2 linked regions of the Homo sapiens genome follow. The protein of the gene in region 1 interacts with the protein of each later gene in a pairwise test. Each region holds a gene or a part of one and is shown in the gene's direction. Other genes may lie near its edges.

Evidence for each region. Proteins that work in one complex are often made in the same cells at the same time.
Region 2: the proteins of LMO4 (region 1) and CTBP2 interact in binary tests that used the Homo sapiens proteins (3 or more experiments, as listed by UniProt).

Annotation. Positions count from the first base shown.
Region 1 is NC_000001.11:87,342,380-87,345,879, forward strand, and holds part of LMO4 (LIM domain transcription factor LMO4), read left to right. Parts: intron 1-2,408; coding exon 2,409-2,417; 3' UTR 2,418-3,500. UniProt on the Homo sapiens protein: Transcription cofactor. Plays a role in establishing motor neuron identity, in concert with MNX1, acting, at least in part, to disrupt LDB1-LHX3 complexes thereby negatively modulating interneuron genes in motor neurons.
Region 2 is NC_000010.11:124,989,564-124,993,063, reverse strand, and holds part of CTBP2 (C-terminal-binding protein 2), read left to right. Parts: intron 1-251; coding exon 252-369; intron 370-3,365; coding exon 3,366-3,500. UniProt on the Homo sapiens protein: Corepressor targeting diverse transcription regulators. Functions in brown adipose tissue (BAT) differentiation. Isoform 2 probably acts as a scaffold for specialized synapses.

The DNA of each region.
Region 1 (3,500 bases):
GATGAGATTACATGTCTTATGCCTTTCATTGAAATCTGTTTTCCACACCTTTTCCAGGATGGCAGTGGTAGGGTATTCATTTTGGAACACTATATTTTAGGCAATGAATAAGAACCTATTAGTGTATGTTTTCTTAATGTTGGAGGCCAAAAAAGAGACAGGTGGCCTTCAAAAATTAATAGCTCTTAAAAGGCATAAGGAAATACAACTTATGGAAATGTTCTTGTCAGACATTGGTGAGAAGCTGTGTTTTGGGGGTGCTGTTAATTAAGAACATTTCCCTGTTGGCGTAAGTGTCTCACATTTTTGCCCTTGGTGCCCAGCTCACCATGAGCACGGTCAATTCACAAGGTAGTTTTTATAAATAAAGGTTTTGGGCAAGCTGAACGTGGTCCAGAGAGATATTAATGAGAGGGCAAGGGGGAAGAGTTAATGAAAACATACTTCCTGGTGGAACATAAACTGCTTTTTGGAACTGGAGAGGCTTTAAAATTATTTTCCCAAAACCCTGTGGCGTTTCTTTTCTGGAGGCAATGAGATGGGGAGAAATGACAAATGGCTTCGTTTTATTATTTTCTCCTCTCTCGTTCTCCATATTTTTGGTAGGGAAAATTGGACATTTATTTTGGCCATTTTCCTTCTATTCGCAGAATCAATTACATTTTTGGTGTATTATGCGTGGTAAATATACTCAAGGATCCTCTGGCTTAAAAGCAATGAGTTGATTATTCGAACATCCCTTCTTTAAAGGCAGTTAATTGCATGGAAAACATAGGCCCCCATTGTCTGGTCCCTTTAAACTTTTATTCTGAGATTTGTTCCCAGGGTCTGGGCTGTGTAGTGTAGTTGTTGTTCTGCATCATTGGCTGTTGTATATTCCAAGAAAAATAATTTTAAGCTTTTAAATCATACAGTGATTGAAATCTTGCATTTCAGATGGACTGAAATCTCAGGCCACTAGTGTTCAAGGATCTACAACATTTTATAACCTATATCACTTAAAGGAGGCTTGGCTAGCTTTGGGAGAATGCTGCCTTCTAGAGGGTTATGTAAATCAGGAATTGTGGCTAATTTTTTCTTTTGTAGATTGCTGCCTGTTCTGGAATTTTTTTCTTCCACTCAAAAGTGTGATGGTGCCATCTAGAATTACCTGTGCTTTTCAGTTTTCAGTGGAACAGGAGTTAGATCACATCTCTTTAGTTGGAGGAAAATTTAGTGAGTGTTCTAGTCTACATGTCACTTCGCAGTTCCCCCATAGTTACATAATTGGTGTTGTGTGTGTCCATCGTAGAAGACATTTGATGCTCATTTATTAAATATGCTTGCTGGCTGCTGCTGCATCTTTGTTCTGGACAGACAAATTACCTTTCTCACACTGAGCTTCCACTCTGGGGAATTAAGCCTTCACCACTTTAATTAGCTTGGAAGTAGGGGGTTGCAGTTCCTAATAGACTACAGGCTTTTTGTAAGTTAGGGAAAGGGTGAAACGAGAACTTCCTGGGAGGCTCAAAATGTCATTTAAAAACCATAACAACCTAATATGTATTATTTCATTTTGGTAATTGCAAACAGATTGTATTTGACAAGTGTGTGGATTTCCATTTCTGACTTAGACATTGAAGCCACCCTTGCATTGAACTATGTTCTTTTATCTATCACAGGTCATTAACACATTGCATGTATTGAATCACATATTTGTGTAGCTATTAAGTGACATAGCAGATAAGAAATAGTGAAAAATATGTGAATATTTGTACATAGAAATTTTCATATAGACACACACCTATAGGTAGTACCAATATGGGTGAATATTTTTCACATGGGGATATCGGAATAATAATGATAACTGCCAGTATTTGTTGAACTTTTATTAAGGGCCAAGCACTGTTGAAAGTGCTCCCATATGTATTATGTAATTATCATAACAGTGTCATTATCCCTTCTTTAAAGATGAGGAAACTGAGACACAAGCAGTTTAAGCAACATTCCAAAAGGTTACACGGTTAAGCATATGAACCCAAAACTTCCTAGGTAGGAACTTGTCTTGGAATGTCCCCGCTATTTAAAAAATTCAAGATCCCACTGCTGGGCAAGATGTTACATTCCTTTTGGAAAGACACTTGCTCTTAACAGAGTTAAGCAATTAATTGTAGTACTTTACACCAGAAACTTTCTGAGCGTCCATTTACTGTCTCATTTTCTTTGCTAGTAAAACTGCAGAAAATGTTATGCTTTAGTTCTTCACTGCCAGAGTAAGTAGCATAGAAAGCCTCTATCAAGTCACAGTTGGAAAGTAATCTAATAAAAGAAGATTAGTGAATGTGGGGAAGACAAAAGCAGTCATGTTTGAGTTTAATATCTCTCAAATTTAGCATTTTAGCTAAGATGCCCGTTTTTATTTCTTGCAGGTCTGCTAAAAGGTCAGAGTAATGCAGAATGCGTGCCTTCATCTCAGATTTGTTCATCACAGGTGGATCCCATGTGTCTTCAGTAGACAAGTCACCTTTGTAGCTAGCACCAGTGCCAGCTCCATGCCATTGCACCTTCTTTAGTCTTGATTGCCCTTCCCGCATTTATTGGTGTATTAAAATGACTGAATATGAACATTAAGGACTCCATGAACCTGGGCTAATGGGAGACTGTAGAGAAAATGAAAAAAGATCCACCAGAGGACATCTTGGGGAGGGGGAGGGAGCTGGGGGGGAGGGAAATGACTAATGAAGCTAATTAAAAGAAGCATTCAAATCTGCTTTCTACCCTCATTAACAATTAGCAGGGCACTGGCCAGAGTTTGTACCCTGTGTTTTACCTTAACAACATTCTATTTGCTCTTTGTATATTTAAGTGTTGTAAGGAAACGTGTTTCAATCAAAACTGACCATGAGATAAAGGAAAGAGATGTGGCTTTTGTGATATTCTATCACAAACACTTATTGTATCTCTGTAAAATACAATGTATGTATGCATGTAAGTGTTTTTGTCCTAATGTTGCTACTCCCATGGCAAAGAAAAAAAAAAGAATGAAAAAAAGAAAAAAATTTGGAAAAAAAAATCAGGCTCATAGCAGCTACTGTGTAGAAAATTCCCCCTACTTCTAATTTGCTGAATGAAGAAAAAAAAAAATCTTTTATTTGTGATATTTTCAGAGACATTTGCTCTAGTATGGTGTATTTAAATAATAAAAACTTAAAAGAAAAAATATTTAATGGTGTTTGGGTTTAAACACTGCTTTTTCTCTTCTGTATTTTGAAGAAATTTAGTTTTTATTGTTGTTGAATAACAAGCTCACTTTAAATTTGAAGGAGTTGAGGGAGGTGGAGTGTATATTTATTTAGCTCTGGGCCAGTAAGGTATTCTTCAAATTACTTAACCACGCCATTATTGGCAGGGGTACAAAGTAGTTTCTAACAGGGTCCTTTCTATAAGTCAAGAATATTCTGTTAACAGCATTTCGTTACACTTCTATATCACAGTAAGTCTTTTGTGTTTATAAATACTTG
Region 2 (3,500 bases), on another chromosome or scaffold:
TTTATTTACGTAAGCCCTGAACTAAACTTCACAGAGGGAACCATTCCCTTTAGTCCCAGACATTATAAACTCGGGGGTCGGGGGGCACACAGAGGCTGAAGGTCAGTGTTGAAGAGCTCAAGCACTTGGGCCTTTGGATGTTCTACATTTTTACAAATGCTTATTTCCCCACATAAGCAGCTACAGGTGTAATGTTGAACTTACTGTGATTTGTAAAAATAATATGATTAATTTTAATCATCTTACCCTAGGTCGCATCCCAGAAAGCTTAAGAAATTGTGTGAACAAGGAATTCTTTGTCACATCAGCGCCTTGGTCAGTAATAGACCAGCAAGCAATTCATCCTGAGCTCAATGGTGCCACATACAGGTGAGAAAAGGAACTGACTTTGTCTCAGCTTGTGAGCACCACGGCCCCGGGGCCAGGGAGAGAAGCCCAAACTTGGCGGAAGCTTAACCTCCCGCAGATGCTAAGTCAGGGTCAGAACAATCAGCCTTCTCAGCAGGAACTGTGTACACCGCCCCCATTTCTTCCAATGCCTAATTTCATGGAACAAACAGAAGCTCCTATTTTAAAAGGGGGTGTGTTCGGTCAGATGTGATTGACCACAGGTGCTAGGAACTGCCTTTCATTCTAAAGCCATCTTAAAACCAGAAGGCTTCCCAGTCACGTGTGGTGGCGCACACCTGCAGTCTCAGCTGCTAGGGAGGCTGAGGTGGGAGAGGTGCTTGAAGCTGGGAGGTGGAGATTGCAGTGAGCCGAGATCACCCACTGCACTCCAGCCTAGGCCACAGAGTGAGACAATGCTGCTACCCCCCGACCCCACCCCACCACCAAAAAAAAAAAAAAAAAAAGGGCTTCTCAAAGAGAAAGGTATACGTAGATAAGATGTTCAAGTGCAAAGGCCTGTGAGCAAGTTCATTTTCCAATTTGAATCTTATGTCCACAGAAGGCATTCTGGTACAGTCAACTCAGGATAGTACAATCAACTCAGGATGATGACCTTGTCCACACACTAAAAATGATACCTGTAGTTTGGGTCAGCTGAGAAACTGGAGCCATGTTTGGGAACGCAGAGTGGGGGAAAGACAGGAGCCCTCACAGGGAGAAGGGGTTCCTTTTGTGGTATTTTCCATGCACGAATCGGTTTTCTCCCACACCCCCCCCCCCATTATTGCTGGCTTCCCAGGAAAATCAGTAGCCCCCTCATGCATAAATGAATGAAGTTGCAGCCTTGAATCTTAAGAAAAATTTTTGCATATTCTAAACCAGGGTTTCTAGCTCTTGGCAATAAGTATATTTGGGGCCAGATCATTCTCTTCATTCTCTCGTAGGAGGCCTGGCCTGTCCTGTGCATTGTAGGACGTTCAGCGGCATCCCTGGCCTCTACCCACGGGATGCCAGTAGCACCTCCCACTCCCACTCATGATGATTGAGAATGTCTCCAGCCACATGTCCCCTGCTGTAGCCACAGTGACGACCAGGGTGCATTCAGTTTGTGTAATGAAGGCTCTGACACTCTTGAAGAAGCTATGCCGGTGCTTGCAGGTCACATGGCTGTCTTCACATTTCATCCAGCCCCGTCCTTTTGGCCCTCAAAAGTATTTTGAGCCTATCACAGCACCAGATTCCCCTGTTGGGTGGAGCTGGGGGCCCACCTCTTCCATGTCTCCATTGTTATTTATCCTTCACGTAAGCTGGGGCTCTTAGGCCCCCTAGAACAGTATGTGTGCACTGAGGAAGGGACCCTAATGACCAGAGTCCTTCTGAAGGTCTTGGTGACAGGATGGCAGGCCAGGAGCTGGGGGTGGGGTGGCTACCATAGTGAGATGCCTCCTCCTCTACCTGGATGGATGATAAGTCTGTGTGAATACACTGAGTCCCACTTTGCCCGAGGACCCTGTGTTCTGTGGTTGGCGAATGCAGTGTGTCCTCACACAGCACTTCGTGCTTGCAATATAAAACCAGCCCGAGCCTGGGCGTTCCGAGGAAGGCGGGCCCCCAGCCAACAGCCAGCAAGCATACCACTTCCCATCTCAGGCCATGGGAGTATATAGCCAACCAGCCTAGAAAGCTTAGTGAGTTCTGGCTGCCATAATTGAGTAGCATAGACTGGGTGGCTTGTAAAGAAATGCCTTGCTCGCAGTTCTGGAGGCTGGAAGTCTGAGATGAGGCTGCCAGCATGGTCAGGTTCTGGTGACGGCCAGGCAGCAGACCGTCAGCTTCTTCCCACATCCTCATATGGCAGAGAGAGGGCCAGAGCACTGACTAGACTCCCTTGTGTAAAGGCACTGATCCCATTCATGACCCAGTCATTTCCTCACCCAGTCACTTCCCAAGGGCTCTACCTCTTAAGGTCATCACCTTTAAGGTGTGGGATTTGAACTGGAATTAGGGGGATGGAGGGAGACAAACATTGAGTCCCTAAGGGTCCATTGTACTCTGTTGGGAAATCATTTTATCAGTCAGAAGTAACTGGTGAACAGTTGGGAGTCCATTTTGTACAAAGTGGGTTTTTTTAAATAGTATAATGTATCCACATTCATAAATAGTATGGGCTAATATCTTCTTATCTAAAAGCTACAAAATTAGTGGCCCCGTGTTTGGATTGGACTAGTTTTGTTTTTATGAATTAGTTGCCAGTGTTTTATATAAAAATTGAGACTTCTCCTTGCTTTGGGGATAGGGAAGATAAACTATCCCATAAAAATCGTTAGCCAGGGCCGGGCATGGTGGCTCACGCCTGTAATCCCAGCACTTTGGGAGGCTGAGGCGGGCGGATCACGAGGTCGGGAGATTGAGACCATCCTGGCCAACGTGGTGAAACCCCGTCTCTACTAAAAATATAAAAATTAGCCGGGTGTGGTAGCGCACACCTGTAGTCCCAGCTACTTGGGAGGCTGAGGCAGGAGAATCACTTTAACCCAGGAGGCAGAGGTTGCAGTGGGCTGAGATTGCTCACGCCACTGCACTCCAGACTGGCGACAGAGTGAGACTCCATCTCAAAAAAAAAAAAAAAAACTATTAGCCAGGCCTGGTGTCTCTCGCCTGTACTCCCAGGACTCTGGGAGGCCTATGATGGGGCATCACTTGAGCTCAAGAGTTTGAGACCAGCCTGGGCAGTCTGGCAAAACCGCATCTCTACAAAAAAATACAAAAACTAGCTAGGCGTGGTGGCTCATGCCTGTGGTCGCCACTACTTGGGTGTCTGAGGTGGGATCACTTGAGCCCAGAAGGTCGGTCAAGGTGAGCCATGTTCATGTCACTGGGCTCCTGTCTCTTATGAAAAGGCCAGAAGTAGAAGAGCCAAGAGCTTGGCAACTCTGCCCTGAACTTACAAGGCCCTATTTCTGTGTGTTCCTTAGATATCCGCCAGGCATCGTGGGTGTGGCTCCAGGAGGACTTCCTGCAGCCATGGAAGGGATCATCCCTGGAGGCATCCCAGTGACTCACAACCTCCCGACAGTGGCACATCCTTCCCAAGCGCCCTCTCCCAACCA